Linked DNA regions of Homo sapiens: all the other regions are linked to region 1. Evidence: fine-mapped expression QTL. A gene starts in region 1. Each other region holds a variant in brackets. All regions are shown on one strand. Distances are between the middles of the regions. Region 1 holds the start of GIMAP1 (GTPase, IMAP family member 1). Region 2 overlaps LOC124901774 (a long non-coding RNA gene). Region 3 overlaps GIMAP2 (GTPase, IMAP family member 2).

Region 1 (10,881 bases):
TATCCTAAATATATATGCACCAAATGCAGGAGCACCCAGATTCATAAAGCAACTCCTGAGTGACCTACAAAGAGACTTAGACTCCAACACATTAATAGTGGGAGATTTTAACACCCCACTGTCAACATTAGACAATTCAATGAGACAGAAAGTCAACAAGGATACCCAGGAATTGAACTCAGCTCTGCACCAAGCAGACCTAATAGACATCTACAGAACACTCCACCCCAAATCAACAAAATATACATTTTTTTCAGCACCACACCACACCTATTCCAAAATTGACCACATACTTGGAAGTAAAGCTCTCCTCAGCAAATGTAAAAGAACAGAAATTATAACAAACTATCTCTCAGACCACAGTGCAATCAAACTAGAACTCAGGATTAAGAATCTCATTCAAAACTGCTCAAATACATGGAAACTGAACAACCTGATCCTGAATGACTACTGGGTACATAACGAAATGAAGGCAGAAATAAAGATATTCTTTGAAACCAACGAGAACAAAGACACAACATACCAGAATCTCTGGGACGCATTCAAAGCAGTGTGTAGAGGGAAATTTATAGCACTAAATGCCCACAAGAGAAAGCAGGAAAGATCCAAAATTGACACCCTAACATCACAATTAAAAGAACTAGAGAAGCAAGAGCAAACACATTCAAAAGCTAGCAGAAGGCAAGAAATAACTAAAATCAGAGTGGAACTGAAGGAAATAGAGACACAAAAAACTCTTCAAAAAATTAATGAATCCAGGAGCTGGTTTTTTGAAAGGATCAACAAAATTGATAAACCGCTATCAAGACTAATAAAAAAAGAGAGAAGAATCAAATAGACGCAATAAAAAATGATAAAGGGGATATCACCACTGATTCCACAGAAACACAAACTACCATCAGAGAATACTACAAACACCTCTACGCAAATAAACTAGAAAATCTAGAAGAAATGGATAAATTCCTCAACACATACACTCTCCCAAGACTAAACCAGGAAGAAGTTGAATCTCTGAATAGACCAATAGCAGGCTCTGAAATTGTGGCAATAATCAATAGCTTACCAACCAAAAAGAGTCCAGGACCAGATGGATTCACAGCTGAATTCTACCAGAGGTACAAGGAGGAACTGGTACCATTCCTTCTGAAACTATTCCAATCAACAGAAAAAGAGGGAATCCTCCCTAACTCATTTTATGAGGCCAGCATCATCCTGATACCAAAGCCGGGCAGAGACACAACCAAAAAAGAGAATTTTAGACCAATATCCTCGATGAACTTTGATGCAAAAATCCTCAATAAAATACTGGCAAACCGAATCCAGCAGCACATCAAAAACCTTCTCCACCATGATCAAGTGGGCTTCATCCCTGGGATGCAAGGCTGGTTCAATATATGCAAATCAATAAATGTAATCCAGCATATAAACAGAACCAAAGACAAAAACCACATGGTTATCTCAATAGATGCAGAAAAGGCCTTTGACAAAATTCAACAACCTTCATGCTAAAAACTCTCAATAAATTACGTATTGATGGGACGTATTTCAAAATAATAAGAGCTATCTATGACAAACCCACAGCCAATATCATACTGAATGGACAAAAACTGGAAGCATTCCCTTTGAAAACTGGCACAAGACAGGGATGCCCTCTCTCACCACTCCTATTCAACATAGTGTTGGAAGTTCTGGCCAGGGCAATTAGGCAGGAGAAGGAAATAAAGGGTACTCAATTAGGAAAAGAGGAAGTCAAATTGTCCCTGTTTGCAGACGACATGATTGTATATCTAGAAAACCCCATTGTCTCAGCCCAAAATCTCCTTAAGCTGATAAGCAACTTCAGCAAAGTCTCAGGATACAAAATCAATGTACAAAAATCACAAGCATTCTTATACACCAACAACAGACAAACAGAGAGCCAAATCATGAGTGAACTCCCATTCACAATTGCTTCCAAGAGAATAAAATACCTAGGAATCCGACTTACAAGGGATGTGAAGGACCTCTTCAAGGAGAACTACAAACCACTGCTCAATGAAATAAAAGAGGACACAAACAAATGGAAGAACATTCCATGCTCATGGGTAGGAAGAATCAATATCGTGAAAATGGCCATACTGCCCAAGGTAATTTACAGATTCAATGCCATCCCCATCAAGCTACCAATGACTTTCTTCACAGAATTGGAAAAAACTACTTCAAAGGTCATATGGAACCAAAAAAGAGCCCGCATTGCCAAGTCAATCCTAAGCCAAAAGAACTAAGCTGGAGGCATCACACTACCTGACTTCAAACTATACTACAAGGCTACAGTAACCAAAACAGCATGGTACCGGTACCAAAACAGAGATATAGATCAATGGAACAGAACAGAGCCCTCAGAAATAACGCCGCTTATCTACAACCATCTGATCTTTGACAAACCTGAGAAAAACAAGCAATGGGGAAAGGATTCCCTATTTAATAAATGGTGCTGGGAAAACTGGCAAGACATATGTAGAAAGCTGAAACTGGATCCCTTCCTTACACCTTATACAAAAATCAATTCAAGATGGATTAAAGACTTAAACATTAGACCTAAAACCATAAAAACCCTAGAAGAAAACCTAGGCTTTACCATTCAGGACATAGGCATGGGCAAGGACTTCATGTCTAAAACACCAAAAGCAATGGCAACAAAAGCCAAAATTGACAAATGGGATCTAATTAAACTAAAGAGCTTCTGCACAGCAAAAGAAACTACCATCAGAGTGAACAGGCAACCTACAGAATGGGAGAAAATTTTTGCAACCTACTCATCTGACAAAGGGCTAATATCCAGAATCCACAATGAACTCAAACAAATTTACAAGAAAAAAACAAACAACCCCGTCAAAAAGTGGGCGAAGGATATGAACAGACACTTCTCAAAAGAAGGCATTTATGCAGCCAAAAAACACATGAAAAAATGCTCATCATCACTGGCCATCAGAGAAATGCAAATCAAAACCACAATGAGATACCATCTCACACCAGTTACAATGGCGATCATTAAAAAGTCAGGAAACAACAGGTGCTGGAGAGGATGTGGAGAAATAGGAACACTTTTACACTGTTGGTGGGACTGTAAACTAGTTCAACCATTGTGGAAGTCAGTGTGGTGATTCCTCAGGGATCTAGAACTAGAAATACCATTTGACCCAGCCATCCCATTACTGGGTATATACCCAAAGGACTATAAATCATGCTGCTATAAAGACACATGTACACGTATGTTTATTGCGGCATTATTCACAATAGCAAAGACTTGGAACCAACCCAAATGTCCAACAACAATAGACTGGATTAAGAAAATGTGGCACATATACACCATGGAATACTATGCAGCCATAAAAAATGATGAGTTCATGTCCTTTGTAGGGACATGGATGAAATTGGAAATCATCATTCTCAGTAAACTATCGCAAGAACAAAAAACCAAACACCGCATATTCTCACTCATAGGTGGGAATTGAACAATGAGAACACATGGACACAGTAAGGGGAACATCACACTCTGGGGACTGTTGTGGGGTGGGGGGAGTGGGGAGAGATAGCGTTGGGAGATATACCTAATGCTAGATGACGAGTTAGTGGGTGCAGCGCACCAGCATGGCACATGTATACATATGTAACTAACCTGCACATTGTGCACATGTACCCTAAAACTTAAAGTATAATAACAATAAACAAAATAATAATAATAATGAGCTATTTATGACAAACCTATAGCCAATATCATACTGACTGTGCAAAAGCTGGAAGCACTCCCTTTGAAAACTGGCACAAGACAAAGATGCCCTCTCTCACCACTCCTATTCAACATAGTATTGGAAGTTCTGGCCAAGGCAATCAGGCAAGAGAAAGAAACAAAGGATATACAAATAGGAAGTGAGGAAGTCAAATTGTCTCTGTTTGCAGGTGACATGATTGTATATTTAGAAAACCCCATTGTCTCAGCCCTAAAACTCCTTAAGCTCATGAGTAACTTCAGCAAAGTCTCAGGATACAAAATCAATGTGCAAAAATCACAAGCATTCCTATACACCAATAACAGACAAACAGAGAGCCAAATCATGAGTGAATTCCCATTCACAATTGCTACAAAGTATATTAAATACCTAGGAATACAGCTTACAAGGGATGTGAACAACCTCTTCAAGGAGAACTATAAACCACTGCTCAAGGAAATAAGAGAGGACATAAACAAATGGAAAAACATTCCATGCTCATGGATAGGAAGAATCAACATTGTGAAAATGGCCATACTGCCCAAAGTAATTCATAGATTCAATGCTATTCCCATCAAGCTACCATTGACTTTCTTCACAGAACAAGAAAAAACTACTTTAAATTTCATATAGAACCAAAGAAGAGACTGTATAGCCAAGACAATCCTAAGCAAAAAGATCAAGATCAAAGCTGGTGGCATCACACTACCTGACTTCAAACTATACTACAAGGCTACAGTAACCAAAACAGCATGGTACTGGTACCAAAACAGATATATAGACCAATGGAACAAAACAGAGGCCTCAGAAATAACACTACACATATACAACCATCTGATCTCCAACAAATCTGACCAAAACAAGCAATGGGGAAAGGATTCCCTATTTAACAAGTGGCGCTGGGAAAACTGGCTAGCCATATGCAGAAAACTGAAACTGGACCCCTTCCTCACACCTTACGCCTTATACAAAAAATAACTCAAGATGTATTAAAGACTTAAATGTCAAACCTAAAGCCATAAAAACCGTAGAAGAAAACCTAGGCAATACCCTTCAAGACATAGGCATGGTAAAGACTTCATGACTAAAACACCAAAAGCAATTGCAAGAAAAGCCAAAACTGACAAATGGGATCTAATTAAACTAAAGAGCTTCTGCACAGCAAAAGAAACTATTATCAGAGTGAACAGACAACCTACAGAATGGGAGAAAATTTTTGCAATCTATCCATGTGACAAAGTCTAATATCCAGAATCTACAAAGAACTTAAACAAATTTACAAGAAAAAAAACAAACAACCCTATCAAAAATTGGGTGAAGGATATGAACAGACACTTCTCAAAAGAAGACATTTATGTGACAAACATATAAAAAAAACCTCATCATCACTGGTCATTAGAGAAATGCAAATCAAAACCACAATGAGATACCGTCTCACACCAGTTAGAGTGGCGATCATTAAAAAGTCAGGAAACAGATGCTGGAGAGGATGTGGAGAAATAGGAATGCTTTTACACTGTTGGTGGGAGTGTAAAGTAGTTCAACCATTGTGGAAAACAGTGTGGCAATTCCTCAAGGATCTAAAACCAGAAATACCATTTGACCCAGCAATCCCATTACTGGGTATATACCCAAAGGATTATAAATTATTCTGCTATAAAGACACATGCATATATATGTTTATTACAGCACTGTTCACAATAGCAAAGACTTGGAACCAACCCAAATGCCCATCAGTGATAGACTGGATAAAGAAAGTGTGGCCCATATATACCATGGAATACTATGCAGCCATAAAAAGTATGAGTTCATGTCCTTTGTAGGGACATGGATGAAGCTGGAAACCATCATTCTCAGGAAACTAACACAGGAACAGAAAACCGAACACTGCATGTTCTCACTCATAAGTGGGAGTTGAACAATGAGAACACATGGACACAGGGAGGGGAACATCACACATGGGGGCCTGTCGGGGGTTGGGGAGGCAAGTGGAGGGAGAGCATTGGGACAAATACCTTAAAACCTAGATGACAGGTTGATGGGTGCAGCAGACCACCATGGCAAATGTATACCTATGTAACAAACCTGCATGTTCTGCACATGTATCCCAGAATGTAAAGTACATTAAATAAAAATTTTTAAGTATGCAGCTCCTTCCCATTCTCTCTTGCTCCTACTCCAGCCATGAGATGTGTGTGCTTCCCCTCTGGCTTCTGCCATGATTGTAAGTTTCCTGAGGCCTCCCCAGAAGCCAAGGAGATGCCAGCATCATGCTCCCTGTACAGGCTGTGGAACCGTGAGCCAATTAAATCTCTTTTCTTTATAAATTACCCAATCTCGGGTATTTCTTTAAAGCAGCGTGAGGACGGACTAATACATTTTCTTCACTGCATTTATAAGGATACGGAAGAAAACAATGAACATGCAAAGACTGGAAAGAGAGGAAGGAAGCATTAATACAGGGTACAAAAGGAAGCCGGAGTTCTAGATATAATTCTGAGACTCAAGTGTAGTCAGGGTCTGAGCTTCACCTGGGTTTCCACAACTGATAGTAAGTATCAATGAATAATAATAGGCAACAAAGCCCAGAGACAGTGAGACATAATCAAGAGCTAATAGAAATGTAGAGGAAAATAAAGACAGAAACGGTTACTTTTCAATAGGAAGAAGATCCCAGAAAGCACCAGTAGGAAAGTGGAAATGTGGGACGGGAAGGGATAGTAGCCAATGCAAGTTGCATTAATGAGCACATTACCACTGTATACGGTGATGAGGATGTTCCCACTGCAGACAACTGGGTCTCAGTCCTGCTGGGGACTCAGCAATTTGTATGCAGTACATCACAGAGTTGTCTCACGTGGTGGACAACTTGATAAGTTGTGGTGTTTATCCATAAGTCCTAACTGACATTGATTGAAATCTGCTCCTAGGATATCAGCTCTGACAACTTCAGGCTGCTGCATGCATTACCTACATATACTTTTGTAGTCAGATAAACCCTCTGACAGAGAGTTATGAGTGGCTGAAGTAAGACATCATACACATGCATGGAAACAATAAATGGCCCGGAGCTGTTGAAGAGGCTCTGAAAGCGTCTTTATGAAAGGTACACGTCAAGTATCAAAGACTTATTCAAAGCTGATCTATGTGGCTTGGGCTAGGATGAGGCTAGTGAGAAGCCCTAGGCACCTCACTCTTAAGAAAACACTCACTCCCAGGGTCACCCACCTACAAGATCTGCACTTGGGTGACCTGAGAGTGAGTGCCTCCTTAAGCTGTGTGCTCTAGATGCCCCACCTGCCTCACAATAGCCCCAGCCCTGCCGGTCTACTGGGAGAATGACAGGCTCCCTGTTTCAGCAATGATGAATGGAAACAGTGGACATGTCAGATATCCAGGAGACTCTGTGCCCCCAAAAAGATGGGAAACAGTAAAAGCTGGGTCTCTTCCCTACCAGAAAAAAAGTGGTCTGGCATGAAAGAGGTTAAAAAGCAGATCCTATCCAGTAGGGTAAGACTCGGGTTATTGTCTTCCCCATATACTCCAGAAAGCCAACTCCAGAAAGTTTAAATGAGTTAGGTGAGGTCCTATAGCTGGTTAATGACCTAACCAGATATGCAGCCTGCTCCTCTGTAGCCTTCTTACCACCCAGTGATTCGCTTTTTTGCTGACCTCATGATGCTCTTGAGAGAAGATAGAATAACTAGAACTGGTGATACCAACATAGACGACTAGACTAAAGCCTCCTAATAAGGCTAAATTGAAGATAGTGCGAAGGTGTTCATCCTCAACATACCAGTTCACCCTCAAGTCCTTCAATAGCTGGGAAAGCCCTCCTCTCTCAGAGAATGATAAGACTTTGCCTTCAGGTTTTTCTGGCAGACTGGATCTGGGGCTGGCACTGGCCACATGAATGTCTAATTAATGGACAGATGATGAGAACAGCTATTACGTTATTTGTTCCGGGGCAGGAGACTCTCTGGGCCTATTTTATATGGGGAAATGTCCCTATAGGGCAAAGGCAACTGAAGATTAGCTCAGTAATCAATTTTAGAAGTACAGTCAGGCCTCAGAGACTACAACATCCCTCCCTTCTTAGAGCATGGCAAGATATTTGACATCATGAGGCCCTGCTGGAGACACATAACCTCAGTCACAGCAGAAAGTAGAGTCGGTAGGAGAAGTATTGCCAACCCACAGCTCAATGGGAAATGTTTCTGTCTCTTTAAACCATAACCATGGGGCCCACCCTGAGCTTCCTGATTTCTGAAGTCTGAGTGATTTCCTCCGTGTGCCGAGAGGAAACAGCCTTCTGCACTCACAGCCGAAGGGAAAGCAGCAGGTTGGGGCTTCTTGTGGCCAACTTCAGAGCCTGTCACCAGGAAAGGTGAGCCTGAGCCTGGGAGTGGCGGGGGCTGGGGGTGCTCTGAGAACCAGAAAGAACATGATTCCTAGAGTGTTTACTGCCTGAACACTTGCATTCTACAAGGCATCATGCAGGCGAGCAAGATCTGGAACAATCAAGGACATACTTCCAGGTTTTTAAGTAGGCAAAGTTCAGAGGAAATTTTAGGATCATCTTCTCCAGCTCTGGAGCACACACGTTCTTGGTGGGGAGTGAAATCTGTCTCCTCCCACATTCCCTTAACAAAGTAAGAAAAGAGTGTGCTGGAACCACCTCCAGGAATAAAATACAGTTTGAAAGGCATTAAACATTCCTCAAGCTCCCTATTGAGCAAAGGCAAAAGATATTTCTATGGCCCCATAAGCCATCTAACCTCGGAGTGAGTTACGACGTGACAAGACTGGGTACATTTGAACTCTCCTCCTCACTGTCCACAGAAGGGGCCCCTGAGGAGACATCTGAGATTAATATCTTGGTCTTCAACCCCTTTCCCTGCATGGCCCCTTAAACATCTGCTCCCTTAATTCAAGCTTCTCCTGCTCCAGCCACGGGGACACCTCAAATTCCCATCTGTACAATAAAGGGGGTTGCAAAAATGACTGATGTCCAAGTTCTGAGCTGTGGACATCAGAAACATTTAATTCATGAATCAGAATCTCAGGATGGATCCAAGAGATGTACATTTTTAAAGAACATTCAAGTAATTCTGAGAAGCAGCACATTTGAGCGGTGAAGAACTCAATAAACTTTGCGGTCTCTTAAAGTGTTAGGAATACAGGATTCTATAAGTGTACATTCCTCAATGATTAAGGGCCATTTGTCACCTCAGAGTTCAGCTGGGTCTTACTTTCCTTTAAAAAAAAAAACTATTTAAAATCATTTCAACCCCTCTTCTAAACTATGGAAAATTCCAAAGGCCTATCCAGAATTCTGCAGCACTGGAAAAAGAAATTCTCATTTTCTTGGTTGACAAGGACATTTTGCTTCATCTAAATTCTTTTCTCTGAATCTTGCAACTGTTTCTTCATTTCTGCTTTGATGTCATTTATGATCATCTGTTCATTCCTACATGCAAAATAATTAATCACATAAGGCCCATGGAGTGAATTTTATTGAAGGCTTTGGGGAGGGCCAGTAGAGTTCCTGCAGAAACAGAAACAGCTCTAGATTTAATATGAGGCAAATCTGTTCTCCAAGTCCTTCAATCAAAGACAAGTTACTCAGCCAGCCTCTCTCTCTGCCCCTCCTTCATGTGTGGTGCCAATGGGAGAGAACACAGGTATCCAAGTGACCAGGGTGCAAGACACAACAAGTTTGACATGGATGGTGAGGCACAGACAGATGGTCGGGGAGGATCAATAGTCCTAGGAGGGGAAGCCGAGTGGGTTGGAAAGGCCCTGAAATCTGCTGATTGTGAAGTAGCTGACCGAGTGGGGTATTGTCTGGGAATGAGGCTGGAGACATAGATGCAGGGAGAAGTGAATTTGTGTTCAGGAGCTTGTGTGATTAGGCAAACTGGATCACAGAGGGTTTAGCTGTATTACACAATGTTAGATTTCAGCATAATCACATTTGGAGGGGAAGCAACTTCAGGAGTTGAAGGGAAGTGTTCAAGTCTCTCCAGCACAGATATCGTATTTAGACATCTCTAAACAAACCAAATTATTTGATTTTAAGAAAACAGAGTTAGGGGCCCTCCAGATCTACTTGGGAGATCTGTTCAATTTCCAAAAGAAAAATCCCAATTTTCTTCTTTCTTCCCAGGTCAGCCACTTGAAGGTGGGTGCCTAAGTCACTGGGCACATTTTCTGGTTCTGAGGGTTTACCTAATCTTCCCCCAGCTGCTGAATCCCCTGATATCTCTAGCTTATGTCAGTGATATAGAATCACCCAGGGAAAAGTAATACCTAAAGCCCATTGGCATTGAGTAAATGTTATAACCGACCCTCTGCTTTTTGCTTTTGGAGTTCCTGAAAAGACAAATCTAGCCTCACCCAATGTTCTCACAGCATCCTACCAACTCAAGGGCAGGGTGTTGGCCCTTCCAAGGCCATTCTCTCAAGTTCCGATATAATCCTTACTTAAAGAAGGATTAGCACAATGTATTATATTTGACGAAATTTACCTGTCTTCTCTCTAGCCACGTGCCCTTCTGCCAAGACATACACCTAGATTTTTAGATCCTTGCAAGCAAAAACCATGTCTTTTCACTGTGCTGTCACCAGCTCTTTGGACTTTGCCTGACACCCTGTAGGTGGTTATGCCTATTTGTGGTTATGCCTATTTGAGGAATAAATAAATGAATTAACAAATTGTGTTTGGGACTCTTCCAGGTAAGCATGGGAGGAAGGAAGATGGCGACAGATGAAGAAAATGTCTATGGTAAGACCATATCTCTACACCTCATACTTGCCCCCCTAGGCTTGAACTTAGGGTAATAAGGAGAATGGGGCTTCCTCAAGACTGAACAGAGATAAGTTCCAGAGGTGTCTCAACTCTGGGATGAAACAGCACCAGCCCTGAGATCTGCATTTTAGCTGGATCTCTGCTGTGAGAAGTTAAGTTCTGTGACTAGCCTGCTCCCTTGGTTCCACAGTATAAAATAAGGATAATAAACCTACTCCGATCACCGCAGAAGAAGTGCAGAGGGGATTAAATCATGCACTACAGTGAACATGATTTGTGAGGTAGAATGTTTAGAGAACAAGGATAGAGGGTTAAAACATA
Region 2 (10,881 bases), 64 kb before region 1:
GGGAGAGTGGGGAGGGATAGTTAGGAGATATACCTAATGTTAAATGACGAGTTAATGGGTGCAGCACACCAACATGGCACATGTGTATATATGTAACAAACCTGCACGTTGTGCACATGTACCTGAAACTTAAAGTACAATAAAAAAAAAACAGTGTTTTTGATTGCTAACACTTCCTTTTGAATCTTTCTTAAAGTTCCCATCTCTCTGCTGACATTACCCATCTTTTCTTGAATGTTGTGTACCTTTTTAATGACAACCTTTAACATGTTAATGAAATTATTTTAAATTCTGCATCTGACAATTCAAAAACCTGTGTCATATCTGAGTCTGGTTCTGTTGCTTGCTTTGTCTCTTCAGCCTGTATTTTTCTTTCCTTTTAGTGTGCCCTGTAATCCTTGTTGAAAGCCTGATGCGATACATTGGGTAATGGGAACTGAGGGAAATAGGCCTTCACTATGAGACTTTATGTTAAGTGGCTACAGATTGCATTGTGTTTGATGTTTGCTGTAACTGTAGTCAGAGGTTTCAGTTTCCTCCAGTATCCTTGTTTAATTTCCTCTGATGTCTTCAGGTGTCCCTAATGACTCCTTGAGTACCGTACCAATGCTTGCTGACTTATGATGCAGTTACATCCCAATAAACCCATCATAAGTCAAAAATATCATATGTGGAAAATACATTCAGTACCCTGATAAGCCTATCATGAAGTCAAAAAATTACAAATCAAATTATTATAAAGTAAGGACCACGTGTATGTGTCTTGTAGTTCTTTCAGCTGCAATCCACTAAGCCACGATGTGGTGGTAAGAAGCGAGGCAAGGAAAGCATTCTATACATTTAGTATTAAATCTGCCTCACTCTTTCACTGGGTCTGTGTTCCTGGGCTGTGGCCTTCACAGGTTTTCTCTTCCCTTTCCTCTCTTTTTCTCCTTCCCCTCCTCCCTCCCCTCCCCTCCTCTCCCCTCCTCTCCCCTCCCCTCCCCTCCCCTCTCCTCTCCTCTCCTTTCCCTTCTGCAGCTCCCTACCCGCTTAGGTGATCCAGGCCAAGTCTGCTCCCCAGCTACCTCTTCTGCCTCATTTTCTTACAATCTTTCTTCTTCTCTGTGCTCTGGCCTTGCTGCATTTCTCTTAGTTACTTGAGGGTTTTATCCCATCTCTTGTGTCCATAAGTACTCTGAGGAGCTGGAACCAAGATGTTTCTCAGAAAGTGTGTCATCTAATAAAAATATCTTGGTAAATATTTTATGTGAAGGTGGAGTCCTGAGAACGTGGGTCAGCAAAGGGTAAAACAACCAAATAATTATATGAACTGCTCTTAATTAGCAAGGAGTTGGCTCACTTATAAATATTTATTAACATGGTACATAAATATCAGCAAACAGTTCTTTCAAAGAACAACCTTGCATTAGCAAGTAGGAATGCAAAGATAGGTTAATATTAGGATATTCATAAATAATTTCACGTGGTAATATATTCAAAAAGAAAACTAATTTGATCTTCTACTTATATTCTGAGAAGGCAGTTGATAAAGTTCAACCAGTATTTGATTTTTAAAGATAATTCCTTATAATACAAAATAGATAGCTGTGTCTACCTCAACATCAAATCCAGCATCATGCTTAGTCGGGAATTTGACAACCCTTCAACCTAACGTCAGGTAAAAGGAAAACATGTCATTGTTCCTTATTACCCCTACAGTTTTCTAGAGCAAGTGAATGCTACAACGATAAAACAGAAAGTAATTGCATGCATAAAAATTGTAAAGCTAGATATAAAATTATTTGCAGAAAATATGATTTCATATCTGTGAAAATCAAGAGAATAAACTGATGAACTACTTAAAAATAGGAGAATTTGGTAAGTTGGTAGGTGCAAACTAAATACAAACTATAGTAATTTACTAAGTTACAAATAAAAACTGATTAGGTATAACACATGTGATATGGTTTGGCTCTGTGTCTCCACTGAAATCTCATGTTGAATTGTAATCCCCAGTGTTGGAGGAGGGGTCTGGTGGGAGGTGACTGAATCATGGGGGAAGACTTCCACCTTGCTGTTCTCGTGATAGAGTTCTCATGAGATCTGGTTGTTTGAAAGTGTGTAGCACCTCTCCTTTCACTCTCTCTCTCTTCTGCTGGCCATGTGAATATGTGCCTGCTTCCCCTTCACTTTCCACCATGATTGTAAGTTTCCTGAGGCCCCCCCTCAGAAGCAGAAGCCAGTATAGCCCACAGAACCATGAGCCAATTAAACCTCTTTTCTTTATAAATTATCCAGTTTCAGATATTTCTTTATAGCAGTGCAAGAATGGACTAATACATCACATTTTTAAAAATAACAAAAAGATAAAATACCTAGGACAAACTTCTAAAATGTGTAACCTCTGTGTAAAGAAAACTTTAAGAAACATCTGAGGGGCTGGGCATAGTGGCTCATGCCTGTAATCCCAACACTTTGGGAGGCAGAGGTGGGTGAATCACCTGAGGTCAGGAGTTTGAGGCCGGCCTGCCCAACATGATAAAACCTTGTCTCTAATAAAAACACAAAAAACAAGCCGGGCATGGGGGTGGGCACCTGTAATTCCAGCTATTTGGGAGGCTGAGACAGGAGAATCACTGGAACGTGAGCCGAGATTGTGCCACTGCACTCAAGCCTGAGCAACAAGAGTGAAACCTCATCTCAAAAAAGAAAAAAAAAAATAGGAAACTTCTGAGGATATGCAGCAAAAAGAACTCTCATAGAAGGCTTGATGAAAATGTGCATTGGTAAAACCACTTTGGAAAATTATCTGGGCTGGGCATGGTGGCTTACACCTATAATCCCAGCACTTTGGGAGGCCAAGGTGGGTGGATCATTTGAGGTCAGGAGTTCAAGACCAGCCTGGCCAACATGGTGAAATCCCCCTTCTACTAAAAATACAAAAATTAGCCAGGCGTGGTGGCACACATCTGTAATCCCAGCTACTCGGGAAGCTGAGGCAGGAGAATTACTTGAACCTAGGAGGCAGAGGTTGTAGTGAGCCAAGATCGCACCCCTGCACTCCAGCCTGGGCAACAGAATGAGACTGTCTCAAAAAAAAATTATCTGGTAGTATCTATGAAAGCTGAAGGTTACACATAGCCAATATTCAGCCATTCTACTCTTGGGTGCATACCCAAGAGAAATAGGTGTTCAACAAAAGATAATGCCTATAATATTTATAGCAGTGTACTCATAAAAAAACTGAAAGCAATGCAAATGTCCATCTACAATAGACACCAAATGAATTGGGCTATATTCACCCAATAAAATCAAATACAGTTATGAGAAGGCATAATCTATACCTACATATTATAATATGGATACATATAAAAGCTTACAGCAAACAAATATGACAATTCCCTAAGCTATAAACTTATATGAGCCTTTTGTTCCACATGTGTTATCATAAAAAAGTCAGTAAATTATTTCTACATTACCTGTAAATTTAATTCAATGTCAGTTTTTTACAAGCCTCTGAAAATGTTCTCTTCTAAACTGGAGCGAAAACTTGGTTCTGAGGCACAGGTGGAAATTACCTGTAAGTGTGCCAGGACTCCAAAAACAAAAATAACCTCATAGGCCACAGTCACAAGAGCAAGCACCCATGCTCTGCAATCCATTACCACAGCCCAGGAAGTGATAAACTACTCTAACAATAAGAGAATTTAGTAAGTTGATGGGTGCAACTAAATACAAACTATAATAATTTACTAATATACAAATAATAACTGATTAGGTATAACTCATGTGATATAGTTTGGCTCTGTGTACCCACCCAAATCTCTCGCACACTCACCCTTCAACTTCCCCTCATTCAGTGAGGATTAGACTGTGCTTTCTGGATGTTGCTGTCACAGTTCAGCAGATGCTGAGATAAAGTTGTGCAGGCATGAAATTCATTTAGGAGTATTTTTGGGAAGAGCCTGTGGGCGAGTGAAGGAAGCAGAGGAAGTCAGGCTGTGATGACAACAAAGGCCTAGTGAGTCAACCCCTCCAGGAGCCCAGAGACTAAGATGGCCCTGCACAGCTACCCAAAATTGGGGCCAGAGGCCAGGCCTCTATACCTCTACACTGACAAGTCATCAGGTGTGAGTGGCCCTGGGAATGGGAGATGACCTTGGAGGAAGTGACTTTTTAGCTGAGACCAATCATGAGGTGGTGTCTTAGGGGTGGGGGCAGGGCTCAGCCAGCAGCTGTCAGCTCTCAACACTCCCGTCAAGTCAGCAGGGAGACTCGGGACTTCAGTCCTGAAATGGAGGGGAAGGAAGTGGATCTCAGTGGCTGACCATAGAGAATACAACATTGAGCAAAATTTGGGCTATTTCACTAGGTCTTCAGAGTCACACTACCATCCAAAGCAATGGCTGTGACTGGGTTTCTCGGGAGTCCAGCAGGTGCATGGAGAAAAACACTTCCCTCAGGCAAAACTGAAGCACCTACCAAATTGTGAAATACTACATTCTTTTTCTGTTTAAATGTGAAATATTTCTTCATTGGCTCCACTCCTTTGGAGCTTCCATGGTCAGAAGTTGAGCGGGGTCAGAGGTTTCGCTGGAAGTAAAAATGGTAGTTCACACTTCCCTGGAGAGACTTGTGAGCTCATCCATTCTGCAAAAGCAGGTGAGGCTGGCTGGGAAGGAGAGCAGGGAGCTGTGTGTGAGTGGGGGTCATGGGGGGCAGCCTGCATGTGAGTGTAGAGGCTGTGGGAGGGGAAGCTGAGAGTTCAAGCAGAATGTCACTCCAGCTCATATTGCACAGGACAGGCCTTTGCTTAACAGGCACTTTCTATCTGGTGTCTGTTGTGATGCTGTTGTCTGAAAACTGTCATTTACCTTTAACAGGATATTAGTGTCCCCAGGACAGGTCTTCAGAACTTGCAGGCAATTTAGAGACACCAAATCTAAACCTACTCTAATTGCTTTAATTACTGAAAAAGAATCAAAGCCCAGTGAATTGGGGACATCCCAAGTGTCCTCTAGGTTGACAAGAAAAGACTAGAACTTGGTCTACTAACTCCATGTCTAGATATATTCCAACACCTCCCAAGAAGGAGGCTGTGCTCCTAATAGTATAAGAGATGGGGTGGAGGATAGGGAGCTTAGGGAGAAGATTAGCTGCTCTAAAAAACGACTATAATTTGTAATTCCAGCTGAACCCCTAAGTTGCAGTGTGGTTCTAGGTAAGACACAGAACGATTTTTTAGTCCGTGCTTCTCTTATATATCCCGTGGCATCTTGAGTGGCTGCTGTGCTCTAGGCAATGTGTAAGACTTTTAGAAATTATTCCATGAAAACCACATGACAACCCTGCACAACTGGTTTTATTGACCCTTTTCATAGCAGAGGGAACTAAGTCTCAAGAAGCTTATGGAATCTTCCAGAAATGGTGGGTCTGGCTACAGTTAGGTCAGCTCATGTCTGAAGCACACGCTTGTTTCACTTCTCAGCCCTCCTCTTAGCTGGAGGTCATCTGGGTCTTCCAAGAACCACTTAGGGAAGTTTTTTTTTTTTTTAATGTGACCTTTTTCCATAAGTTATTGGGGTGCAGGTGGTATTTGGTTACATGAGTAAGTTCTTTTGTGGTGATTTGTGAGATTTTGGTATACCCATCACCTGAGTAGTATATACTGCACCATATTTGTAGTGTTTTATCCCTCGCCCCCTCCCACATTTCCCCCCAAGTCCCCAAAGTCTATTGTATCATTCTTATGCCTTTGTGTCCTCATAGCTTAGCTCCCACATATCAGGGAGAACATATGATATTTGGTTTTCCATTCCTGAATTACTTGGCTTAGAATAATAGTCTCGAATCTCATCCAGGTTACTGAAAATGGTGTTAATTCATTCTTTTTATGGCTGCATAGTATTCCATCATACACACACACGCGC[G/GCACA]CGCACACACACACACACACACACTACAGTTTATCCACTCTTTGATTAATGGGCATTTGGATTGGTTCCATGATTTTGCTACTGTGAATTGGGCTATTATAAACATGCATGTGCAAGTATCTTTTTTGAATAATGACTTCTTTTCCTCTGGGTAGATATCCAGTAGTGAGATTCCTGGATCAAATGGTAGTTCTACTTTTATTTCTTTAAGGAATCTCAACACTGTTTTCCATGGTGGCTGTATTAGTTTACATTCCCACCAGCAGTGTAGAAGTGTTCCCTGTTCACTGCGTCCACGCCAACATCTACTGTTTTTTGATTGTTGGATTATGGCCATTCTTGCAGGAGTAAGGTGGTATTGCATAGTGGTTTTGATTTGCATTTCCCTGATCATTAGTGATGTTGAGCATTTTTTCATATGTTTGTTGGCCATTTGTATATCTTCTTTTGAGAATTGTCTGTTCATGTCCTTAGCGCACTTTTAGATGGGATTTTTTTTCTTACCGATTTGTTTGAGTTTGTTGTAGATTCTTAATATTAGTCCTTTGACAGTTGTGTAGATTTTCTCCCACTCTGTGGGTTGTCTATTTACTCTGCTTACTGTTCCTTTTGCCATGCAAAAGCTCTTTAGTTTAATTAGCTCCCAGTTATTTATCTTTGTTTTTATTGCATTTGCTTTTGGTCATGAAATCCTTGCCTAAACCAATGTCTAAAAGGGCTTTTCCAATGTTATCTTCTAGAATTTTTGTAGTTTCAGGTCTTAGGCTTAAGTTCTTACTCCATCTTGAGTTGATTTTTCTATAAGGTGAGAGATGAGGATCCAGTTTCATTCTCCTACACGTGGCTGCCAATTACCCCAGCAACATTTGTTGAAAAAGGTGTCCTTTCCCCCACTTTATGTTTTTGTTTGCTTTGTCAAAGATCAGTTGGCTATAAGTATTTGGGTTTATTTCTGGATTCTCTATTCTGTTCCATTGGTCTATGTGCCTATAAAACAGTATCACACTGTTTTATGGTTCGAAATTAGGTAGCGTGATGCATTCAGATTTGTTCTTTTTGCTTAGTCATGCTTTGGCTATGTGGGCTCCTTTTTGGTTCCTTATGAAGTTTAGAATTGTTTTTTCTAATCTTGTGAAGAATGATGGTGGTATTTTGATGGGGATTGCACTGACTTTGTAGATGGCTTTTGGCAGTATGGTCATTTTCACAATATTGATTCTACCCATCCATGAGCATGGGATGTGTTTCCATTAGTGTCACCTATGATTTCTTTAAGACGTGTTTTGTAGTTTTCCTTGTAGAGGTGTTTCAGCTCCTTGGTTAGGTATATTCCTAAGTATTTTATTTTATTTTATTTTATTTTATTTTATTTATTTTTTGCAGCTATTGTAAAAAATATTGAGTTCTTGATTTGATTCTCTGCTTGGTTGCTGTTGGTGTATAGAAGAGCTACTGATTTATGTACATTAATTTTATATCCAGAACTTTGCTGAATTCTTTTATCAGTTCTAGGAGATTTCTGGAGGAGTCCTTAGGGTATTCAAGGTAAACAATCATATCATCAGCAAATAGTGACAATTTTACTTTCTCTTTACTGATTGGATGCCCTTTATTTCTTTCTCTTGTCTGATTGCTCTGGCTAGGACTTCTAGTACTATGTTGAAGAGGAGCAGTGAGAGTGGGCATCCTTGTCTGGTTCTAGTTCTCAGGGAGAATGCTTTCAGCTTTTCCCTATTCAGTATTATGTTGGCTATGGGTTTGTCATAGATGGCTTTTATTACATTAAGGTATGGTCCTTTTATGCTGATTTTGATGAGAGTTTTAATCATAAAAGGATGCTGGATTTTGTCAAATGCTTTCTCCACATCTATTGAGATGATCATGTGATTTTTGTTTTTAATTCTGTTTATGTGGTATAACACATTTATTGACTTGCATATGTTAAACCATCCCTGTACCCCTGGTATGAAACCTACTCGATCATATTTTTTGATATGTTGGATTCAGTTAGCTAGTATTTTGTTAAGGATTTTAGCATCAATGTTCATCAAGGATATCAGTCTGTAGTTTTCTTTTTTGATTATGTCCTTTCCTGGTTTTGGTATTACTGTGATGCTGGCTTCATAAAATGAATTAGGGAGGGTTCCTTCTTCCTCTATCTTGTAGAACAGCATCAAAAGGATTGGTACCAATTCTTCTTTGAATGTGTGGTAGAATTCTACTGTGAATCTATCTGGTCCTGGACTTTTTTTTTTGTTGTGTGTTTGGGAGAGGAGGGTCTCCCTTTCCCACTTCTGCAGTTGGGGCACTCACAGTATTTGGGGTATCTCCCAGGTCCTGCAGGAGCAGACTGCTTCCTTTGGAGGGTCCTCTCAGGGTTGCTGGTTTGTTCTTGCAGTTGATCTGCCGCTAAAATTCACAATGTGAGCTTCCACAAGCTGCTCTGTCCAGAACTGCAATCTGGTCCTGCCTGCCATCTGCTATGATGATCTAATTGTCTCCCATTTAGGAAAGTTTTAAAATGATTTTTCTAGGCCAGGCGCGGTGGCTCATGCCTGTAATCCCAGCACTTTGGGAGGCTGAGGCGAGTGGATCACAAGGTCAGGAGTTTGAGACCAGCCTGACCAACGTAATGAAACCCCGTCTCTACTAAAAATACAAAAAAATTAGCTGGACGCCATGGCGGGTGCCTGTAATCCCAGCTACTTGGGAGGCTGAAGCAGGAGAATCGCTTGAACCTGGGAGGGGGAGGTTGCAGTGAGCCGAGATCATGCTACTGCACTCCAGCCCGGATGCCAGTGTGAGACTCCATCTCAAAAAAAAAAAATGATTTTTTCTGTCTCTCTCTCATCTTTGGCTTTTCAGTATGGGATAGAGGGAAAAGTCCACAGAGAAGTGCGGAGCCCTCCCCATGGACTCTCCAATCCAAGGCTTGCTCCCAGCTCACCTTCTGAGCAAAGTGTGGATCATTTCCTTTGCCCTCCCCTGACCTATTTATCACATGATGTCAATGAAAATGTACAATCATGGTTTGAGAGTAACCAAGGACAGGCTGTAGAGTGCATGGTTAAGAGTGAGTGTGGTAGAGTCACACTTCAACTCAAATATTTTTATCATTCTAAAATCAAATCTTCATAACAGTCAATTCAAAGAAGTCCAGCTTCTGCTCTCATTTCTATTCCCTCCCTCTGTACACAGGTAACTTTTTCCTTCCTTGTTACTCTTTCTTGCTTTCTTCTTTTATTTCTTCCTTTCTTCTACCTCTCTTTTTCTCTTTTTCTTCTTTCCCTTCCTTCTTTCTTTCCTTGCTTGTTTTCAAAGTATATCTTTCTATTGTCATCCTTATATTTATGTATCTATATGAAAATATATAACATATAAATATAATAAATATATATGCAAAAGTGTATCTTGTGCCCCTTACTAAACAAATGATAGTATCCCTTACATTATTTTATTCAACTCATAATTGAATAAAATACTTAGCAATATATCCTGGAGATGATTTTACAACTCTCTATAGAGATAGTCTTCACTACTTTTTACAATGAAGAAGTACTTCATTGCATAGATGTATCTAAGTTCATCCCGCCAGTCTCTTATTCATGGTAATTTGGATCAGTTTTTGTCTTTGCTTTTTTAAATAGTACTCTTCCAAGGAGATTTTTGCATAGTTCTTTCTATACTTTTGCCAGTGTATTTTTGGGCACATTCTTAAATTTGATAATGTGTGTCAAAGGGTAAATCCTTCTTTATTTACCCCCATAGGGCTGAACTCTTTTGCTTTCCCTTCAGCAGTGTCTGAGAGTTTCTGTCTTCCCTATACTTTTGTCAAGAAAGTAGGCTGTCAAACTTTAGGAGTTTTGCCAAATCTATACATGAGAAACATTCTCTGGAATCTACCCCTTTTCCAAGGACTTTTGGTTCTGGTTATTGGGTAATAAACAAAGATTTGGACACTTGATGTGCTCATTGCTAGAAGGTGTCACTTTTTCTAAGCTCGCCTTAGCAGACAGAGCTGGGAAAGCCATGCGTGCAAATTTACATATGCAAATCCACATACTTATGTTGATTTCTGCATCTCTCTATCTACATGCTTTTAAAAAGCAGTAAGTTCTATTCTTATTTGTAACTTGTTTGTGCAACATTATTTGCAATATACATACTACTTTGTTCAATCCTATTGTTACTGATAGAGTTGTCCAGGTTCTTGAAGTGTTGAACAAAGAATTGAACAAAATGCACAAAGTAACAAAAGAATGAAGCAATGAAAGACAAAGCAAGGAAGTAATGAAAGCACAGATTTGTTGAAGACAGTTTACAGGGTGGGAGTGAGCTCCAGCAACCAGCACAAGAATCTCCTTGTTACAATGCTCCCCAATGTTTTTATATAGCCAAAATAACTTGGCAACACCTCTAGGTGCCATTTATTTATTTATGACTGAGTCTTGTCTATTGCCAAGGCTGGAGTGCAGTGGTGCAATCTCGGCTCACTGCAACTTCTGCCTCCCAAGTTCAAGTGATGCTCCTGCCTCAGCCTCCTGAGTAGCTGGGATTACAGGCCGCATACCACCACACCCACCTGGGTGCCCTTTAGAGGTCTCCAATTGGTTACACCTTATGAAGGATTGGCCTGTGACCAATCAGAGAATAAAGTGGAAACTTATGTCTTGTTATCACAGGAGCAAGGATGTGGCCTTTATGCTGCCTAATCTTGCCTAGAACTGTCGGCACCTGCTGTTTTTTTGCTTATGCCTTAACCCTTGGTTACCTTAATTCCCTATTCTCCTGTCTCATTTCCTGCTGAGAGACATGATCCCCTTGAATCTTTATGGGAGGCAGAGGCACTGAAGATCAGCTTTCTGTAGCTGCTTCCTGCTGGTCACGGGCATTGTCCCTGCCTATTGAGAATCCTGGCTCTTTGTCCCTAGGTAGTTAGGTCAGTGTCCGTGGGCTGCAATGAAACTTG
Region 3 (10,840 bases), 16 kb before region 1:
TTATAAAGTACATGGAAACTCAAAGAAGTTACACAGCCTTGGCTGAAGCAAACTGCCTAAAAGGAGCCTTAATCAAAACACAACTGTGTGTTTTATTTTGTATTCAGTTGTTTCTCAGATTGATAATTCTGTGGCTTTGCATACTGCACAGCATGTGCAATTTGTTTTGTTGCTTACTCTTTAGTATGTGCAATTTATTCTGCAGTTTGCTGTTTATTATACCCAAAAAGTTAATGATATTTTTGAGAACAGTTATTAGACTAGAACGCAAGACTCCTAGGTTATAGTTACAGATCCCAGTTATTATTTACTCACTATCATTTAGTGGGTGAATCACAGTAATTTCCCTGTAAAATGTGGTACCTGAAGTCATATTTGAGATTCTATGAAATGTTTAAATCTGAACATCACTCCAATTATTAATGAACCAAATCATACGATAAGTTACTGTTTGCATTGAAATATAATATCAAAGCCTTTTGAAATCTGTAAACATAAAATTCCTCTCATTTTCAAATATCTAAAGCCAGTTTTATGTTCCTAAAATCTCATTTTCTTCTTTCTAGTACTACTATTTCTACTGAATATAATGAAAATGGCAATAAAATAATATTACATAAACTGTAAAGTTCCTTTGATCATATGTTGTTAATTCTCTTCTATAGTTTTCTCCTTAGAAAATGGTAAGTGGACATGACTCATGTTAGCCAGATTTTAGCCCTGACGTCCTACAGATTTATCACTGAAACATAAGTAAAGACAAATGTCAGAAAAGATAGCAAATTGGACTGGATATTCTGAAGCATCATCTTGCTAGATGCAAATAGAGGCTACATTTATTAAAAGAAACAGAATTTTTATAATTGATGAGTTCACCAGAAAAATAAAGAAAATTCCAAAGGTAGAGCAAACAATATTTTTTTTTAAATGAGGAGCACAAACTGGAGTTGAGGCCCATGAGGAATACATGAACAAGGAAGGCAGAGGTGACCGATAGACAAATGCCGGTACCAATCCTAAGATGAAGAAATCAATCTTGGGCTGTCAGTAAAATTGGAGAGCTGATTTGGAGTGTTCTGTATTAATTTAGGACCTTCCAGGAGACTAAAGTTATCCAAAATTAGTTGAATTATTGACAGCCAGTAGAAGCAAACACAAATCTTCTCTAGAGGAAAACATCTCCAATTTACTTGAGTATTCAGATGGAATTAATTCAGTAAAGTGAACCCAAATCATGTCCCTATGAACAAGATCAAAAAGATTAAAAAACCCAACAGAAGTAGACTCAGAAACTTTAATATCACAGTACTAGTTACAGTGTACTAAGTAGCTATAAAATATTTCTTAGAATATCACACACATACAGCCCAAATTAAAAAGGAACAAAAAACTACCAAAGATGATGAGCTGTATTTGAAAAAACTCATGAAATTTTAATAAATCAAATTATAATTGATTTTTTTAAAGTTAATGATGAATACTCCTATTAGTGTTGGAGAAGTGTATTCATTACATAAACTCCTCCATGGGTAGCAGTTATAAAAACTTTTAAAAATTTTAAATCTATGTAAAGATACTGGAAAACATCTAAAAGTGGACAGATGAAAAAAGAGAGTTTCTCTCAAACATTGCAGGGATTTGTATTAAAATTTGGAGCAACAAAAGATGCAGACTATCACTGCTTCTATTTAGCATTTTACCACAGGTCTTATCTATCTAATAACTTCAAAAAAAGAAATAAAAATAAAAGGTATGAGTACTGATGAGAAAGAAAAATAATAATTTTAGATAGATAATTAAAGGTAATAAAAGTAGAGCAATGAATCTCAATATAATATCAACTTTTTAAAAGCTACAACACTTCCATATCCTGACAACAGACAGAAAAACTGAATTTAAAAAACAGAGTTCAGACTTCCTTGTCAGATCAAAATAGCATAACAAGGACCAGATATCCCCTTCCTGCCCCATGTGAAACAATCAAAAAATGGACAAATGATATAAAATGACAGTGCTGAAGACACTGAAAATCAGGTAACAAAAGAGAGTAATCACTGAGAATTGGAAAACAAGACAAGAGTTTCAATTTTCCCAGCCTCCTGTCTTGAGAGAGTTTTCAGGTCACAACACAGAGAGGGTATAACAGACAGACCCTATGTTGACTTCAAATGATTCCTGGCCCCTGGTGTTCACACCTTTGTAGAACTCCTCCCCTTGATTGTAGGTGGGATCTGAGACCTATTTCTAACCAATAGAACATGGCATAGGTGACAGAATGTCACTCCAGTGATTTATATAGCTGCACAAAGACTTGCTTTTCCTTTCCTCCTGGCCTTCAAGGAGCAAATTTCCATTTTGTGAATTGCCTATGAACAGGGCTAACATGGCAGAGAACTGCAGGTGGCCTCTAGCCAACATACAGGAAAAAGTCAAAATCCTTGGTCACAGCCACAAAGAAACAAATTGTGTCAACATCCTGAGGGTTCAGATCTTTCCCATCAAGCCTCTGATTAGACTTAAGCTAGCATTACAGGCTGGTGAAACCCTAAAGCAGAGAACATACAGTTAAGCTATGTCTACACTCCCTGCCCACACTAATCTTGAGATAATAAATCTATGCTGTTTTAAGTTGCTAAGTTCG[C/T]GGTAATTTGTTATGCAGCATTAAAAAACTAACATTTATGGAAACCAGGTGGAGCCTGGCAGACTCCCTGATTTGAGAAGATAGAGTTGGGATTCTGGAGATACAAAGGTGGCTAAGAGTTCACATAACAGAGTCTGAGAGAGGAGAGAGCTATATGGAGAGAAAACTAGACACCTGCAGAGAGTCCCCCTTGAGTCTTCAATTGAATACTGATCACCACATGCATGTGGTGAAACCCCCTGAGGTGACAAAAAGAACCAGTCAACAAGATTAGAGGAAACAGTGTCCTGCACTCACCACGGACCATAAAAACTAAAAAAGCCTGTGATTTGTGGGGCATTGGGTAGATTTCCCAGAAGAGCCTTGCCTCACTAGTGGGAAATAATTGGTTCTAGACTGACAACTTATCAAGTATGCCTACCAAATATTAAAAGCAAGACCTGAAGGATCAAACTGTTTCCAAGTAACTTAAATGCATCCCAGAAGAAAGCTCAAGAATATTTACAGAAGTAAGAAAATATTCAGCACATAAGAAGGTCAAAACCAGATGTCTGGCATCCAGTAAAAAATTACCAAACATGAAAATTAGCAAGAAAATATGAAGAGATAAATCAATGAATAAATACCAGCCCAGACTGACAAAAGTGTTAGAATTATCAGCCAAAAACATTAACACAGTTATTACAACTGTGTGCTATATGTTAAAACAGTTTAAGTAGTAAGGTGGAAGACATTAAAAAGATCCAAATTTAACCTCTAGAGATAAAAACTACCATAAAAGATATAAGAAGTACATTGAATAGGGTTAGCAAAATATTAGGCTGAAAAAGAAAAGATTAGTGAACTTATGATCATCTAAATAGATGCAGAAAAGGCTTTCAATCAAATTCAAAAATCCCTTCATGTTAAAAACTCTCAATAAACCAGGTATTGAAGAAACATACCTTCAAAATAATAAGAGCTATCTATGACAAACCCACAGCCAACATTATACTGAATGGACAAAACCTGAAAGTATTCCCCTTGAAAACTGACACAAGACAAGGATGTCCTCTTTCACCACTTCCATTCAACATAGTATTGAAAGTCCTGGCCAGAGCAATCAGATAAGAGAGAGAAATAAAAGAGAGTAACAAAAGAGAGTTTGTTTCTCTCTTCCAAATGGGAAGAGAGAAATTTACACTATCCTTGTTTGCAGACAACATGAGCCTATATCTAAAAAATCCCATAGTCTCAGCCCAAAAGCTCCTTCGGCTGATAAAGAACTTCAGCAAAGCCTCAGGATACAAAATCAATGTACAAAAGTCACTAGCATTCCTATATAACAACAACAGTCAAGCCGAAAGCTAAATCAGGAATGCAATCTCATTCACAACTGCCTCAAAAAGAATAAATATTTAGGAACACAGCTAACTAGGGAGGCGAAAGATCTCTATAATGAGAACTACAAAACACTGCTTAAAGAAGTCAGAGATGACACAAACAAATGAAATAACATTCTATGCTCATGAATAAGAAGAATCAATATTGTTAAAATGACCATACTGCCCAATGTAATTTATAAATTCAATCTTATTCGTATCAAACTACCAATGACATTCTTCACAGAACTAGAAAGAAAACTATTTTAAAATTCATATGGAATCAAAACAGCCTTAATAGCCAAGGTGATCCTAAGCAAAAAGAACAAAGCTGGAGGCATCATGCTACGTAACTTCAAACTATACTACAGAGCTACAGTAAGCAAAATAGCATGGTACTGGTACAAAAACAGACATATAACCAATGGAACAGAATAGAGAGGCCAAAAATAAGGCCACACCAACTACAACCATCTGCCAAAAATAAACAATGGGGAAAGGACTCCCTATTCAATAAATGGTGCTGGGATAACTGGCTAACCAGGCTAGCCATATGCAGAAGATTGAAGCTGAACCCCTTCCTTATACCATATACAAAAATCAACTCAAGATGAATTAAAGACTTAAATGTAAAACCCAAAAACTATATAAACCCTGGAAAACAACCTAGACAATATTATTCTGGGCATACGAACTGGCAAAAATTTCATGATGAAGATGCCAAAGGCAATTGCAGCAAAAGCAAAAACTGACAAATAGAATCCAATTAAAGAGCTTCTGCACAGCAAAAGAAACTATCAACAGAGTAAACAGACAACCTACAGAATGGGAGAAAATTTTTACAAATTATGCACCTGACAAAGGTTTAATATCCAGCATCTGTAAGAAACTCAAGCAAATTTATAAGAAAAAAAAGCAACCCCATTAAAAAGTGGGCAAAGGACATGAATAGCCACTTTTCAAAACAAGACATACATGTGGCCAGCAAGCATATTTTAAAAAAGCTCAATATCACTGATAATTAGAGAAATACAAAATAAACTACAATGAGATACTATCGCACATCAGTCCAAATGGCTATTACTAAAAAGTCAAAAAATAACAAATGCTGGCAAGGTTGCTGAGAAAAGGGAACACTGATACACTGTTGGTGAGAGTGTAAATTAGTTCAACCATTGTGGAAAGCAGTGTGGCAATTCCTCAAAGATCTAAAACCAGAACTACCATTCAACCCAGCAATCCCATTACTGGGTATATCCTCAAAGGAATATAAATTATTCTATCATAAAGACACACATGCATATGTATGTTCATTGCAGCACTATTCACAATAGCAAAAACATGGAATCAACCTAAATGCCCATCAATGCTAGACTGGATAAAGAAAATGTACATATACACTATGGAATACTACACAGCCATAAAAAAGAATGAGATCATGTCCTTTGCAGGAACATTAATGGAACCGGAGGCCATTATCCTTAACAAACTAATGCAGGAACAGAAAACCAAATAGTACATGTTCTCATGTGGGAGCTAAATGATAAGAACATATGGACACAAAGAGGAGAACAACAGACACTGGGGCCTATTTGAGGGTGCAGGATGGAAGGAGGAAAAGGAACAGAAAAAACAACTATTGGGTACTAGGCTTAGTATCTGAGTGACAAAACAATCTGTACAACAAACCCTTGTGACACAAGTTTACCTATATAACAAACCTGCATATTTACCCCTGAACCTAAAAATTTAGAAAAGAGAGAAGATTAATGAACTTGAAGACACAGCAATAGAAATGTCCCAACATAGAAAACACAAAAGAAAAAAAGAATAGTCACTTTCAAAGAACAGAGCTTCAGTGAGCTCTGGGACAACCTCAAGTGGAATGTATATGTAACTGGATTCACTAAAAATAAAAGGGGGTCAGGACAGAAAAAATATTGGAATCAATAATGGCCAAAAATTTTCCAAATTTTATGAAAACTGTAAGCACAAGAACCCAAGAAGTTCAGTGAACCCCAAGCAAATAAGACATCCACAAGAAGAAACATGATAATCAGGTTGATCAAAATGAATGATAAAAGGACAATTCTTAAAGCAGCCAGAGGAAAAAAAACATATGTTATGTCCAGAGAAACAAAGGTAAGGATGACAACAGATTTTTCTGAAGAATTAATGTGACAGAGAAGACAGTGAAACAACATTTACAAAGTACAATCATGTGTCACTTAACAATGGGGATATATTCTGAGAAGTGCACCATTAAGCTACTTCATCATTCTGTGAACATTGTAGAGTGTACTTACACAAACCTAAATGGTACAGCCTACTACACACCTAGGCTGTATGATATGGCCTATTGCTCCTAGACTACAAACCTGTAGAGCATGCTACTGTAGTGAATACTGTAGGCAACTGTAACACACTGGTAAGTATTTGTGTATCTAAACATACTAAACACAGAAAAAAAATACAGTAAAAATAGGGTGCTATACTCTTATGGGACCAACATCGCATATGTGGTCTGTTGTTGACCAAAACATCATTATGTGACACATGACTGTATTAGAAGAAAAACTGTCAAATTAAAATTATTTTTCAAAATTACCTTTCAAAAATGAAGGCAAAATAAAAGCTTTTCCAGACATTCAGTAGCTCAGTTTGTTGCCAGCAGACCTGAACTACAAAAAAAAAAAAAAAAGTTAAAAAAGGAGAATGATATCAGAGAAAAATACTGATCTTTTCAAAGGAATTAAGATCATCAAAAATGGTAACCACATGAGTAAATATATAGGGTATTTTTCTTATTAATTAAATACCTTTAAAATATAATTGACTGCTTAAACAAAAATAATAACAATATAGATTGAGTTTTGCAATATATGCAAAAGTAAAACCTGTGAGAACAATAGGACAAAAAATCAGGAGAGGAAAAATGGAAAGATACTATTATAAAATGTTTATGCTCTATGTAAAGTGATATGATATCACTTCAAGGTGAACTGAGGCAAGCAAAAGCTCTATACTATAAACTCTAAGTCAACCAATAAAATAACAAAGAGTTATAGATAATAAGCCAACAGAGAGAGGAAAAATGGAATTTTTTAAAAGTTCAATTAATATAAATGAAGGCAGTAAAAAGGGAAACAAAGAACAAATGCGACAAATTTGAAAAATAGTAAGATGATAGATTTAAATCTAAAGAAGTCAATAATCTAAATATTAGAGTACATGGTCTGAATATCCTCAGTTAAAAGGCAGTGATTGTCAGAGTGGATTTAAAAAGCAAAGCTTATCTATATTTTGCCTACATGAATCTTGCACTAAATATAAAGACAGCTGGCTTAAGCAGAAAAGGATGAAAAAAGATATTCTATAATGACACTAATCAAAAGATACTTGGAATGACAATATTAATATCAGACAAAGTAGACTTCAAAGGAAAAAATATTATCAGGAATGAAGAAGGACATTCTACAATGATAAAGCCATCAATTCATCAAGAGGACATAACAATCTAAAACTTTTATGTGTGTAATAACAGAATTCCAAAACACATGAAGCAAAAATTGACAGAATTGCAATAATAAAAAGAAAAACTCACAAATATGGCCAGAGATTTTAATGCCCCTCTCAATAATTAATAGTATAGAAGATAGGTATGGAAAAATAATAATAATAGTACAAGTAGACAAAAAAATCAGTAAAGATAGAGAAGATTTGAACACCATTGTATTAGTTTCCTATGGCTGCTGCAAGAAATTCCTACAAGCTTCGTGTCTTAATACAAGCCATTTATTCTCTCACAGTTCTGGAAATCAACAGTCCAAAATCAGTTTCATGGGGCTGAAATCAAGGTGATGGTAGTGCCCTACTTCTCCAAAATCTCTAAGGGAAATATTTTTTTGCCTTTTGCAGCTTTTAGAGCTGCTCATGGCCCCTTCCTTCATCTTCAAAGCCAGCAGCACAGCATCTTGCTTCAGTCCTCACATTGCCCTCTTTTTCTGTGCCTTCCCTCTGCTTCTCTTAAAATTTATATTTAGAGTCCATCTGGACAATCAAAAATAATCTCTTTATCTCAAGATCCTTAACTCAATTACATCTGCAATGTCCCTTTTTGACATATAAAGTAACATCCACAGGTATGTCCTGGGCAATAAGACATGGATATCTTTGGGGGCATTATTCAGTGTGCCAACATTGTCAACCAATTTGACCTAATTGACATTTATAGAACATTCCACTTAATAACAGCAGAATACACATTTTCAAGTCCAATATGCTTAGTTTCCTGTTGCTGCTGTTACCATAAATTTAGTAGCTTAAAACAACAAAAATTTATTATCTTACAGTTTTGGAACTTAGAGGTTCAACATGAGTCTCAAGTTGTTGGTGAGGATGAGTTCTTTTCTGGAGGCTGTACTGGAGAATCAATTTCCTTGCCTTTTGCAGCTTCTAGAGATCACCTGCATTCCTTGGCTTATGGCCCAGTTCCACCTTCAAAGCCAATGACAATGGATTGAGTCCTTCTCACATCAAATCACTATGAACTTCTTTTCCGCATCTCTCTCCACTTTTAAGGGCCATTGTGATTACACTGGGGGTACCCAGACAATCCAAAATAATCTATTTTAAATGCAGCTAATTAGCAATCTTCCCCCCCCCCCCCACCATATTACTCCAGCAGTAAAACCAAGCCTCCAGCTTCTGCCTGGAAGGGGCTTGTCTACACATTGAGCACCCCAACTTGTACAGCTCCCACTTGAGAGACTAGCTCCTAAATCACTTATCTCTGGGAACTGACATGACTTAGCATTTACAAGTCCCCCCAGACCACAGAGAACAAAGAATTGATTTGATTTTAAATGGGAATAGGAGCACCTGTAGTGGCTACTTCCCCTGGCTCGGCACAGAACAAGAAGGCAAAACACCCAGTTTCCAGTTTCTCCCTGGAAGGGGTTCAACTGCAAACCTAACATCTTAACTTTCACTGCTGCTTCCCAGGATCAAGCCTTTAATTAGCCTGCATCTGGGAGCTGATGGGGCAGGCAATAAGTACTTCTCTGGGAGCCTGAAGGGAACTATAGGCACTTCCCACAAATCCTCTTCTCAGCTTGCTCTAGAGATAGTACCAAGCCTCCATCTGACTCACCTGTCTCTGACAGCCAATGGGAATCAATATTCATTAGGCCCCTGAGGGAAACAAAGAGCAGACCAAAGGGTTGAAAGAGTGTACAGTCTGAACGAGAGTGCAGGAATCTGACACAGATAGTCTCCATGCCTTATTCCAGAACAAGGGCAAATACACTTCAGTTCCAAGCTTCTCCCTGAAGAGAGAAAAAAAAAACTGGACCACACATCTAGCACCATAAATTTTCCAGCTTCTTCTCAAAGTATTCACTTCTTTTTGAATTGTCTCAGGGCACTAATGGGATATGGAACACATTAATCTTCTGGGGCCCATGAAGAACATAGGCAATGGTTTGGACAAGCACAAAGATTTGGGAGGCACCCAGAATCACTGGCCATACTGATTTGTGTGGTTTATTCCTACACAAGACTGGAGAGGTAGCTGTTTTATCTAATGCACAGAAACCAACACAGAATCAAGGAAAATGAAGAAACAGGAAAATACGTTTCAAACAACAACAACAACAACAAAACAAAAAACAAAACAAAACAAAAAAAGATAAAACTCCAGAAGTCAACTTAATAAAATAGTGACAAGTCATTTACCCAGCAGGGAATTCAAAATAATGGTCTTAAAAATATTCACTGAGGTCAGGAGAGAAAGGCATGAACAAAGTGAGACTTTCAACACACAGATAGAAAATGTTTAAACATACCAAACAGAAGTGATACAGCCGAAGAATACAATGCCTGAACTGAAAAATTCAACAGAGAAGTTCAGCAGCAGACTAAACCAAGCAGAAGAAAGCATCAGTGAACTTGAAGACAGGCCATTGGAAATCATCCAATCAGAGGAGCAAAAAGAAATAAGAATGAAAGAGTGAAGATACCTTAAGGGACTTATGGGACACATAAAGCCGACCAATGTATACATTATTAGAGACCCAAAAGAAGAGAAAAAAGAAAGTGAAAGAAAGTATTAAGTTGGTAAAAGAGTAATTGCAGTTTTTGCAATACATCTGCAAAAAAACGCAATTACTCTTGCACCAACCTAATATATTCCAAGAGATAATAGCTAAAAACATCCCAAGCCTGGGGGAGTAAATAGAAATCCAGATCCAGGAAGCCCAAAGGATACTAAATAAAGTGAATCCAAAAAGACCCATTATAATTAAATTGTCAGAAGTTAAAGACAGAGAATTTTGAAATCAGAAAGAGAAAAGCAACCTACTACATACAAGGGAATCTTCATAAGACTATTAGTAGATTTTTCAGCAGTAACCTTGCAGGTAAGAAGTGCATGGAATGATATACTCAGAGTGCTGGGAGTGGGGAACTGCCAATCAAGAATACTGTGTCAAGCAAATCTAACCTTAAAAAAATGAAAAAGAGATTAAGACTTTCTCAGAAAAACAAAAGCTCGGGGAGTTTATTACTGCTAGACCTACCTTACAAGAAATGCTAAAGAGAGCTCTTCAAGTTTAATTAAAAGAGTACTAAACAGCAACACACGTGCATAAGAAGGAATGAAGCTCACTGGTAAAGGTAAATATAGACAAAAATAGAATATTGTATTACTATAATGGAGGTGGTAAATCACTTTTAATTCTACTATAAAAGCTAAAAGGAAAAAACATTAAAATGTCTATAAATGATATTAATAGACACATAATACAAATAGATGTACATTGTTACATCAACAGAATAT

The links. PIP is the estimated chance that this variant, and not a neighbour inherited with it, causes the effect.
Region 2: its variant is fine-mapped to the expression of GIMAP1 in whole blood (INTERVAL, PIP above 0.99).
Region 3: its variant is fine-mapped to the expression of GIMAP1 in whole blood (TOPMed, PIP above 0.99).

What each region holds. Positions count from the first base shown.
Region 1 is chr7:150,708,555-150,719,435 of GRCh38, forward strand. GIMAP1 (GTPase, IMAP family member 1) reads left to right here and starts at 8,059. Exons shown (of 3, transcript NM_130759.4): 1 at 8,059-8,136; 2 at 10,488-10,536. The coding sequence starts at 10,494. GIMAP1-GIMAP5 (GIMAP1-GIMAP5 readthrough) reads left to right here and starts at 8,059. Exons shown (of 5, transcript NM_001303630.2): 1 at 8,059-8,136; 2 at 10,488-10,536. The coding sequence starts at 10,519.
Region 2 is chr7:150,644,945-150,655,825 of GRCh38, forward strand. LOC124901774 (a long non-coding RNA gene) reads right to left here. Exons shown (of 4, transcript XR_007060589.1): 4 at 3,360-3,947. Among named protein-coding and RNA genes, the nearest start is that of GIMAP6, 18 kb to the left of the region's middle. The variant G/GCACA (reference allele first, on the strand shown) is at 5,913.
Region 3 is chr7:150,693,014-150,703,853 of GRCh38, forward strand. GIMAP2 (GTPase, IMAP family member 2) reads left to right here. Exons shown (of 3, transcript NM_015660.3): 3 at 1-628. The coding sequence ends at 287. Among named protein-coding and RNA genes, the nearest start is that of GIMAP2, 13 kb to the left of the region's middle. The variant C/T (reference allele first, on the strand shown) is at 2,642.